2 separate regions of the Homo sapiens genome follow, and region 2 is linked to region 1. Evidence: fine-mapped expression QTL. Tissue or cell type: whole blood. Region 1 holds a variant in brackets; the other region holds the start of a gene. Each region is shown on its reference strand, or each on the opposite one. Region 1 holds the start of LOC124907866 (a long non-coding RNA gene). Region 2 holds the start of CDHR1 (cadherin related family member 1).

The links.
Region 2: it holds the start of CDHR1, and the variant in region 1 is fine-mapped to the expression of CDHR1 in whole blood (TOPMed, PIP 0.96).

Annotation. Positions count from the first base shown.
Region 1 is chr2:111,046,784-111,052,266 of GRCh38, reverse strand. It overlaps ACOXL (acyl-CoA oxidase like), which reads right to left. Exons shown (of 18, transcript NM_001142807.4): 16 at 2,979-3,049. It overlaps LOC124907866 (a long non-coding RNA gene), which reads left to right and starts at 2,090. Exons shown (of 2, transcript XR_007087182.1): 1 at 2,090-2,206. RefSeq lists a silencer at 2,121-2,415 and an enhancer at 2,121-2,415. The variant C/T (reference allele first, on the strand shown) is at 2,167.
Region 2 is chr10:84,191,841-84,197,094 of GRCh38, reverse strand. It overlaps CDHR1 (cadherin related family member 1), which reads right to left and starts at 2,558. Exons shown (of 17, transcript NM_033100.4): 1 at 2,280-2,558; 2 at 1,506-1,601; 3 at 445-590. The coding sequence starts at 2,334. RefSeq lists silencers at 2,343-2,462, 2,533-2,662.

The sequences.
Region 1 (5,483 bases):
TTGCTCATCTGAGTGGGCCCCGCAGGAAGAAGCCCAGCTTTCTGGTCCTAGTTCTATTGCCGGCTGACTAGCTATGCAATGGTGGCTAGTCACTTGTTTTCCTGTCCCTCCTGCTTTTCCTGGTTGTCAGATGAATGTTCTGGCTTATGCCATCTTCAAAATCTCAATGTTTTTGTCTTTGCAGGGGAATCTGACCTTGGTTCAGCCATCTGATGAACCAAGTTCATCTCTTGCATCTTCTTGGCAGTCTGTCTATAGAGCATCTTCTCAGGTTAGGCAAGGTGGAGCTATGTGATTGAGGGAGGGGCTTTTGACTTGAGTCAAAATTAGGCTGCCTGGGACAATCATGGACCATGCCTGCCATACAAGCTGCATTTTTAATGGTACCCCTTTAAATATTTGTGCTCAGATCTCAATTACCCTTGACAATGTAGAATGCAACATTGGAATGTTTGACAATGCAGGAATGCATGCAAAATATAATTTTAAAAAATATCAGCTGGGCGCAGTGGCGTATGTCTGTAATCCCAGCACTTTGGGAGGCCGAGGCGGGTGGATCACCTGAGGTCAGGAGTTCAAGACCAGCCTGACCAATATGGTGAAACCCCATCTCTACTAAAAATACAAAAAATTAGCCAGGCATGGTGGCAGACACCTGTACTCCCAACTAGTGGGGAGGCTGAGACAGGAGAATTCCTTGAACCCAGGAGGTGGAAGTTGCAGTGAGCTAAGATCACGCCACTGCACTCCAGCCTGGGTGACAGAAGAAGACTCTGTCTCAAAAAAATATATATCATATTTGGCCCAGATCTACGTTTTTTGCCTCCAACAAGTTTTCATGAGGTTAAGTTAAATGTGGGAATTTATTTCAGACAGTCTGCAAAGTGGATAGCTCACTAGAGCAAACATACAATCACCTGCAGGCTGACTGTAGTCAAAATAATCTACTGTCACCCTGAATAGGTTTTCTCACATAACATCTACAAAAACCCAGCATACCATTGTCACACCCACATGGTGCCTTCTGATATGTGACATTAGAAAACCTCAATCTCCTAAAAAAAATCATAAAATAGTTTCAGTATATATGAACTCGGCACACGTTTTTGTTCAGTGAAACTTCTTTCTTTGATGATGCCTGTTCAAATATTTGCAAATATTGAGAAAACGCCCACATAAATCATCCTCTGTTGCTGAGGCCACACAGTCTGCAGAAACCAACAGGTAAGACACAAAATACTGAACGCCACTGGAGGTCACGCAAATTCCAGGAAACCTCAGGCCATCTTAGCCTTCCTCTCCCAACCCCAATCTGTTAGTTTCTAACCGAATGTGCTAGAGAAGCCAGCCAGAGCACCATGAAAGTCAGCAAGAAGGTGAAATGGTGAGAGGAGGAGGGGCCTTTGGTTACATCTCTTTTCACCTCTCACTCTAGATGTGAAGAAACTCAGAGGGGGCTGCGGCATCCCAAGTCGGGGAGGCCATGAGGACCACTAGAAGCAGGCCTGGAGGTGTGGTCTCTGGGGCTGGGCTCTGTCGCTGCCCTCTGTACCCCAAAATGCCTCTGAGATGCCCATGTAACCTCCAGGGGAGCCCAGGAGCTTCACCTCCTGCAAATGGGGAGAGATGGACAGTAGGAGAAGAACAAGAGAGAAGCAAGAAGCAAATGGTAGGAGAAAACACAGGATAGAGGGAAGAAAGACCAAAGGCCGGTGAGCAGAGAAAAGAGGTGAGCATCCAGGGCCCAAGAGCTGCTTCAAGGTCATGGAAAGCCAGCCTGCACCTGGAAGGAAAGGTCCTTGCAGAATAGAACTTAAAGCAGGAAACAGAGAATTAAGCGTGGCAAACAAGAAACGCCCATGTGCCTGAATCTATATCATTCTAAGTCAGTGTATCAGACGCCCAGGACTCTGAAAAATCAGGGTTCCCAGACAAACCCAACACTTGGTATGAGCAGCGCTTCTTTATTATAAAACTAACATCACTGAAAGCTTTTTTTTTTTTAAAGACCAAAAATATCACATCTTAGGCAAATGAGTTGAAAATCCCTCAGAGTGACACCCTATTTTTTTTCCACCCATTTCTAAAGTCAGAGGACACCTGGTAAAGAAGCTGGTTTTTAGATAAAGAAATGCAATTCCTGGTGCACGCGGTTTCCTGGTGGTA[C/T]AGCACTGAAGTGACATCATGGAAATATTTGTACCTCAAGGTCAGTCTGCAAGGTTTCTGTGTGAAAGCATGAGTCTTAGTGGTGGGAAAGTATGTGTGTGCACCTTTGTGATCTGCTGCTGTTTACTGCTCTCTGCTTCAAAGACAAAGTTTTAATTAAATCCAGGTGGGCAGCTTGCCAGGGTTTTCCACACTTTTGGCTCACCTAGGTAGGCAGCCTAAGTGCAGGTTATACCATTTGGAAATGCCTCTGCTCCTGTCACTTGGAAGGAAATAAAACAACTGTTCCTTGGGGCGGGGGGTTGGGGGGAAGAAGCTTGTCTTCCACTCAAGGGCAAGGAATCTATGACATAAGATGCTCATTCTGGTGGTGAATATGAACAGTCTAATTTGTGTAGCATTCCTTAAGGTGCCAAAAGTAGGAAGCAGCAGACTGGGAACGTATGGAATCCTTTGTCTTAATTAAAAATATAGTGGGAGATGTGGAATTTGGCCAAGCCTCATAAATCTGCTAAAAAAGCATCAAGACTCCATCAGATAAGTTTAAATAGAACCAACTGAGCCCTCTGGAGAGTTAAACAGATTCCCCACTCATGTGGACACCCACTCTCCTGTCACTTTCCCGCACTCCGCAGGCAGCAGTGGTGCTCGTTAACCAGCAACCCTCCAATTCGCCTATGACAAGCTTATCCCCCTGGAGCACACGATTCAGACATGATAAATTTACTCCCGCTTGTAAAAATGAAACTCTCCTCAGGGCAATAAAAACGCTCTGAGCCTTTAGGAAATAAGTTCTTTATCTGATAACCTACCTTCATTAACAAAGTCTGGTCCTCTTGGTCAGGACAGCTCTTCACTGCTAGGGAGAACTGCTCTAAGGTAACTGGAAGGGAAGAAATGGAAATTGTGAATGACTTCACTTCCGCCTCAGAGCCCTTCTGATGTGAAGGAGGACACTGTGGTTATAACAGACGTAAACAGCATGCTGTCCGTCCTTCCTTGGTGACATGGCAGAGCTCCCCAACTGTCCCCTGCATGGGTCAGGGGCCCCCGTACAGTGACTTCTCCACCCCATCAGACAGAGTCATTACAGTAGAGTACAAGGCCATTCCCATCAGCAAAGCTCCTCCCTAAACTGCCAGGAGGTCCTGGGTTCAGCTTCCTTTTGGGTCATCTTGTCCCCAGAGATGACACTCTATCTCCATTTCCTGGGACCTTCATTGAGAAGACTCCACCTGCCTTTGTAAATTTGACAGTGCTAATTTAAAAAATCTCAATCTTCCATCATGATTTCCATGGCTTTAACTCTTCTCTTGGTGTATGGCCCCAAGTGTTGACTCAAACCCCACAAACTCCCCCAAATATATAAAGTCGTCTTTCTCCAACCAACCTTCTCAAGGAGAATAGGGAAGAGAAACCCAAGAAGATTTACGAGAAAAAAAAAAAGTTTTAGTAATCCATTGAAATTGGCCATGAAAGCTCTAGGAATATTAATCTAGAAAATTTACAAAATTACATTCCCCTTCTCATATTTATGGCCAGGTTCTCATCAAAGGCTCACTTATGTGGTGACCAATTTTTATTTTGGTGTAAGTCACAGACTGCCCTCCTGTAGGCTGTGTTGACTACATTGTTTCATGCTTGAAAATGCTCCCACAATTCTCTGCCACCCTCAGATTTAAAACCACTTATTTGACACGCATTAAGGCTTTTACTAAGTTAACCCAACTAGTTTAGCCTTTGATTGCTATACTCAAAGCTGCGTTCACTCTTTACCCTCTATGACCTTTCATTGCTCTCTGCTGGGAAGAGTTCTGCCTCTTGTCTTTGAGTAGAGCAAAACTCAGTCCTCCAACTGAACATCCCAAGCCCACCCATCCAGCCAATAAAGACATTGATTGCCCTCTGGTCCCATCCCAACTCCCGCAGATCCCACAAAGGTGGGCAGAGCTAAACTCAGCCTCAAGGCTGAGGGACAGTCTGATTCCAATGATTTGACCTCAAGCATGCCTGGATGTCATGTCTACAAATACAGATATTTTAAAGAGAACTATATCAGCAATGATGAATTTTCATCAAGAAAATATTGTCTGGGTAGGTTGTTTGTAGTTTTCAATGTTACTCTAAAATAGAATTCCTTAGACTGCTTTCATCTCTGACTAAATTACTCCATGCCATCTTGACTGCTATCAGTTGTATCTGGTGCTGATTATTTCTTCCAAGTTTAAATTTTGCTCTATCCAGTCAAGACATACTTGGGATCCATAGAGAGATCAATGTTGCCTTCCACATGCTCTCCAATGCATATACCCACCCAGTCTTCAATTGGCAGAAACCAGTGTTAATTACATAGAATCATCAATTTAATCTTTTTTAAAAATTAACTTTGCCTATAAAAGTGGCTCAGCAGAAACTTGTACATTGAGATAAGGGCCCAAGCTGTGTTAAGTTTACACGAATGCTTTTGCTGTCACTCATTCAGAATACACCTGCCTGGGAAAGACCCTGGAGGCAAGACCTCTCTCCCTCAACTCCGTCCTCAGTTTTGGACTTTTGCTGTGATCTGATTTGGTGTGATAACATATTGATCTCTGACTACTGTCTGAGGATGGCTAAAGAATAATCTACAAATTCAGGTGCTAGGTTTTCTTTAGATCACCTTTTTAAGGTGGCTATTTTATTTGGTAAAGGTTTATGCTGTAACTTAGAATCTTACTTAGTGCAGGTCAGGGAAATTGAAACACTTGCTTCCTTAGAGAGCTACTGGATTCTCACTGACAGCTCTCTCCTCTCTGTGGTGACCCTGTGTTCATACTTCTCACTGCCTGTGCACTGGACTCCACTATGATACTTTTCGTTATCATAGACATAGCACCCACTTCAAGTTACCTTGAACTCTGTACATCCAATCCAAACCAGTCAACTTCCATACCAAGCCAGCCCTTTCCAACTTTTTCCCATTTCTGTGGGACTATCATCCTCCAGCCACCAGGCCACTGAGCCTGATTCTTTGATTTCTCCCTCAGGACCCCATGCCTGCTGACTCTTGTACGATGATGTCCCTTGGATGCACCACTTTCCCACAGTAGTGCTGCCACTTTGATTTCTGGAGAACTTCTCGCTCTTTCCCAGCCTCCATGCCCACTGCTGCCACCACTCTGAGCCTGGCCCTGCTGGAGCCCTATGCCTATGGCCTGCATTCCTCCTCACCACACCAGGCCTAGCCCCTCTTCCCCGTGCAAACCACCCTGATGGCTCCTGACTCTCATTCATGCAGGGTTCCATCTTGGGCCATGCACTCCCTCCCTGTCTCCTCA
Region 2 (5,254 bases), not on the chromosome of region 1:
GCAAGTTCTCAAGTGTGTAGAGTGGAGGAGCTCTGCCAAACTCAGACTCACTGCCAACCACCCTTTCCAGCCTTGACCTGCTCTGAGTTCCTGTGCCTCTCCCAGGACAGGCTTGAAAAATCACTTTGTGAGGTTTCTTTCAGAAACCTCAAAGTGCAAACGGATTTATTTTTAATGGAACATGCTTAAAAGATTAGCAGGGCTGGCAGGTGCTCGTTAAAGGAGCCCACTCTTCGCTCTGTGTGAAGGAGGAGCATGAAAGTAAAGCCCACTCTGCTGATGGGAAGTGGCCCAGAGATCTCACAGAGTGGATGTGCCTGGGGTGTGCCCCCTCATCCCCTACTCTGTGGAGAGGTTCTAACCAATGTGCTCCAGGGGAACTTCAGCCCACCGAGGTCTGTCTACAGGCAGTGGCCCCGCAGCACTCCCCACACCTCCCCATACCTCTCTGTCCAGCTCTTCAACCAGGGTGATGTTTCCAAAAGTGGGGTCAACAGAAAAGACGCTTCTAGTGCTGGGGTCAAAGCTGATGTGGTAGGAGATGGGGTCTCCCTCAGGGTCTGTCCCATTCAGGGTGTATACGTGAGAGCCTGGAAGGAAACACAGTGGAGAGACATAGAATCTGAGACCCAACTTTTCCTAAAAGTGGCAGATGCTCAGGACCAACGATTCAGCTGTTTATAAAGTGACTATTCAACTCAGTGCCAAAGGTACTGCCCTGAACTTGGTGCTCATTGCTGGCCTCACCCCTGCTGGCTGCTTCCCTCTTTGTATGTTTATTCTTCACAGCGGGTGGTTGTGATGATCAGCCACTTTCCAGATTGTAATCTATAACACGGGTTACAGAGCAGGTGCAGGTCTGCCGTGCCTAACTGTAGTGCCTATGTTCTGCTCAGCCTGGTAATAACTCCTCTCTCAGGATCCAAGATTGAGGGGCTCCTGGGTACAGGGAAGGGGAAATGGGAGCAGCCATTAAGGCAGGAGGGGTGACCCACAGTGCACCACTGTCCCCGATGCCTGGACCTGGTTCTGCAGGGATTTCTGAGCCAGGTGCCTACTTTGCTCTGCTCTCCCTTTTCCCCGGGTTCCCACTACCCACAAAGTGAGGGAGAAGGAGTGTGAAATCTCCCCTTTCTCCTCCCCTCTCTCTGCATATCTCAGCAAGTTGGATGTTCTTAGGCCGTTTTAAAGCCTAGAGACCTGGGGCTCAGGGAGGTAAATACATTTGTTCAAGGTCACACAGCCATAAGGGGCAGCTGTAGCTGCCTGCCTCGCGGGGCGACCCTGTCTGTGGGGGGGAGCCCTGGTCTCCAGGACTGGCCAGACTTAAGTCGCCATGGCAGCAATGACCTTCTTTCCTGCCATTGCCCAGGGGAATTCGGAGAGCAAACAAGGAGCCCCCGGGCGCGCGCAGCAACTTGGGTGGTGCCTGGGGCACTTTGTGTTCTAAGTCTGCCTGCACCCCTCAGGGAGACCTATCGGGAGCAGGTGCCAGGGCTACTCACCTACAGGGGTGTCCTCTGGGAGGCTGAACAGAGCCATGTTTCCGTTGGTGCTGCCGACCCCGTTGTCGAAGAAGTGCGGGGCGAAGTTGGCCTGAGCTGGAAAAAGAACACAGAACAGACGGACACCCAGGCAAAGGACACCCAGACACCAGGAGGGAGCTTCGCACCAGCGCGGTCCCGCGTCAGGCCCAGCTACTGGGCAGGAGGGCGCTCCGCCTCCCCAACCCAAGTGCACCGAGGGACCCCACTGGGGCGCCGCCCAGAGGATGCCCCTGACCCCCACTCCGCCCCCGGTGGGCTCGGGCTTGTCAGGGACACGTAGCATGTGGGCGCTTAGAACCCAGGTAGCAATCCAACCCCTCCTTCATCAATGGGCAGATTGCACCCGCGCTCGGAGAGGGGCAGTGCCCCAGCCCAGCCAAGGTCAAGCCGCGAGTCAGGGCACTATCTCCTGCCCCACGCAGCATCGGAGCTGCCACCAAGCCTACAGCTCTGGTTCCCAGCAAGCGGAGAGCAGCGGGGGTCCGGGCGCCAAACCCTGGGGCCCTAGGATGCCAGCTCTGGAGAAGCGCCCCGGAGCTCCCCACTACTCCGCTACCCCACTCCCCACTACCGAATGGGCCAGGAAGATGGAAGGACTTCTCCGCTCCCGTCCACCAGCCCGAGTCCCACTCTGGAAGTGGTCCAGGACCATGTCCCTCTGGCCACCTGGGTGACGCCAGCGCCCATCTCCCTCGCCATCCACGCGGCCAGCGCGGCCCAGCGGCCACTCACCCAAGCAGAGGCGCAGCAGCCCCAGGGCCAGGGCGGCCCACCGGCAGCGCCTCATGTCTCCGCCGGCGCGGAGTGTCGCCTGCCGCCGCCGAGACCGGGCGCAGGGGCACGGAGCATGCCCTGGGCCCGCGGGGAGGGCAGAGACCACAATGGGGGTAGCGGCGACTGCAGCCGCGGCGGGAGGGGGCACGGGGCGGGAGCGGCGGGTGGCGTGAGGGCGCTAAGAGGATGACACGGCTCGGATCTGCTCCTGCCGGCCGCCTGACGAGACCAATTAGCGGCGCAGAGCGGAGCGACAGGCTCCCAGCCGCGGGCGGGGGCAGGAGGGCGTGACAAGAGGACTCCCCGCCCGCCACGCCCCCTTTGCCGGCGGCCCCCAGTCCTGGACAGGAGGACACCATGGGGGACAGGAGTGTCTTTCCCCCAAGTTGTCCTGAGGCTTTCCCAGGGTACTTAAGTCCTGGTGGGGCTTGGGCTTCGCAGTTTTCTTTTCTCATCAACTTCCTCTGTGACTTTCAGGGGCTTAGCTGTCTTCTCTGAGCTAAGCATTCCAGAAGAAAAGTTAGTGGAGCGGCCGAGAGGGCCTTGCCTTAGCAGTCTAAGCAGGTTCTATAAGCCGCGTGAGACCAAAGGCAAAGAGAAAGGGTGATGGATGGGCAGCAGATGGTAAGGGGTTATCAGGACCCCCTCTCTGTGATCTCAACCCATTCCTGCCCTGTTCCCCAGGCTGGACCACCTCTCCCAAAGGGTCTGATCTGTGTGGTGGGCAGCAGGGAGGACCCTCAGGTGTCCACCAGGGTGAGAGGCAGTTCTGCTCCCCATTCCCAGTCAGTGCCCAGTCTGGGACCATGAAGGGGCAGCTGACCCACTCTTCAAACCTTCCAAGGAAGAGTGAAGGGCCTGAAGGCAGAGTTAAGCCCCATCTTAGGACAGACTTGCACAGAGCTGGCCAAGATAGATCTGAACTGCCCGAGAGGCACGAGATCTCATTCCTAGAGGGTATTTACACAAAGCAAGGCACTGCTATTGGGGTCCTGGATGCTGATAACTTGAAGACACAGGTAAGCCCAGGAACCTTTTTGGCTGCTGGTAAAGCTCCTTGGGCTTCCTCGTTCTCCTGCTCTGACACTGGAGGGTGCTTGGAAATGCAGCCTGTTTTCCTTTTCCTGGTTGGGCCATTTATGGGGGTACAGGTCACTTCAAGCCCAAGCCAGGCCACTTCCCAGGATGCCCTTGGGTGGATGTGTTCTCAGATAGAGGAGATCCCTCCTCTGTGTGCTCCTGGGAGAGGTCTCCACAGCTGAGGACTCAGCATTCCCCCCCTCCCCCTGCCAGGGGCCTTTGAGGGAACAGAGCACCCCCCATCCCTTGGTCTAGCCCTACATGATCTACTGTGAGCAAGGGTCAGGGATTTGCAGAGAAGAAGGAAGATGAATCAATGGTTTTAGAATGTGCAGCAGTTTTCAGGCCTAATTGGCCGAAACCCTTGTTGAGTCTCCTTAGGCTTGGCTCTTTTGCTGAAAAGACACACTTTAAATTGCACAGATGTTCTGAATCTGCCTCCCAAAGTGCTGGGACAAAGCTAAGGCAAGTATTCTGCAAGTCCCATATAGGGATGTGGAGACTGAGTCTTGCCGTGGATTTCCCAGGAGCCAGAGGCAGAGCCAAGGTTTCCTGGAGTAGATGTCTTGGTGGGCCGAGAAAAGCCAGCTCTCCCTGGGTCCTGTTAGCCCTGCTCCTCACCAATCTAGGGCCGTTGATTTCTCTCTCCTCAGTTCCCTCAGTCAACAGCCATGCACTGGAGAGGGAAGGGGAAGGAGTAGCCTACATGCCATGTGCTGTATGTGTGCTTATGTATATTTGCCCATATTATCTTATTTGACCTGCACTGCTCTCCCAATGTGATTTTCTCTGCTTTGCAGAGGAGGGAGATTTCCTCATTGGCTGTGTACGACCAAGCAAGTGACTTATTCTCTCTGAGGTGCAGAGCTTGGATTCACATACAGTTTGGGTTGGCTCCAAAGAAGGTTCAAACTCTTTTTTTTTTTGAGCTGGAGTCTCACTCGGTCACCCAGGCTGGAGTGCAATGGCGGATCTCAGCTCACTGCAACCTCTGTCTCCTAGGTTCAAGTGATTCTCCTGCCTCAGCCTTTCAAATATTGGCATTACAGGTGCACGCCACCATGCCCAGCAAATTTTTTTTCTTTTTTTTTTTTTTGGTAGAGACGGGGTTTCACCATGTTGGCCAGGCTAGTCTTGAACTCCTGACCTCAGGTGATCCACCCATCTTGGCCTCCCAAAGTGCTGGGATTACAGGCATGAGCCACTGTGCCCGCCTGGTTCAAACCCTTTTCATGGCAGAAGAAGATGATCTTGAATCTACTGAAGCTTCAGCTTCTAGGCCTCTCACTCACACATCACACATTCCTTCCAGAGCCCCAGTTTTGTATTTTACTTTGTATTTTCTTCTTCTTTCTTTTTAGAGATAGGGTGTTATTATGTTGCCCAGGCTGGCCCTGAACTCTAGGGATCAAAAGACTCTCCTGCCTCAGCCTCCTGAGCAGCTGAGAATACAGGCAGCACCATTACATCTGACTTCTATTCTGATGTAGAAGGGTCTGAGAAAGACCCTCCACACCCCCCACTCCAACTCCTGCTGCTTCCTTCAGCTGTTTTAGGTTCAGATCTGCTAGTGTAACCAGCTGCCCAAATTTGCCTGGGACTGAGGGGTTTCCAGGGATGCAGGACTTTCAATGCTAAAACCAGCAAAGCCTAAGGTAACCTGGTATTTGGCGGTCACCCTAGATACAACCCTGTCCTCAAATCACCTAAGGACCTGGGAAAACAGCAGCTCTTTATGGTGGTTCTCACCATGGACCCTGATCTTGACCTTGCAGTATGGAAGGTCTTGGCTTGTCAAGGCTCAGTAGGACTCATCTGCCATGAGACATGGGACCTGACCCTCACTTACAGAG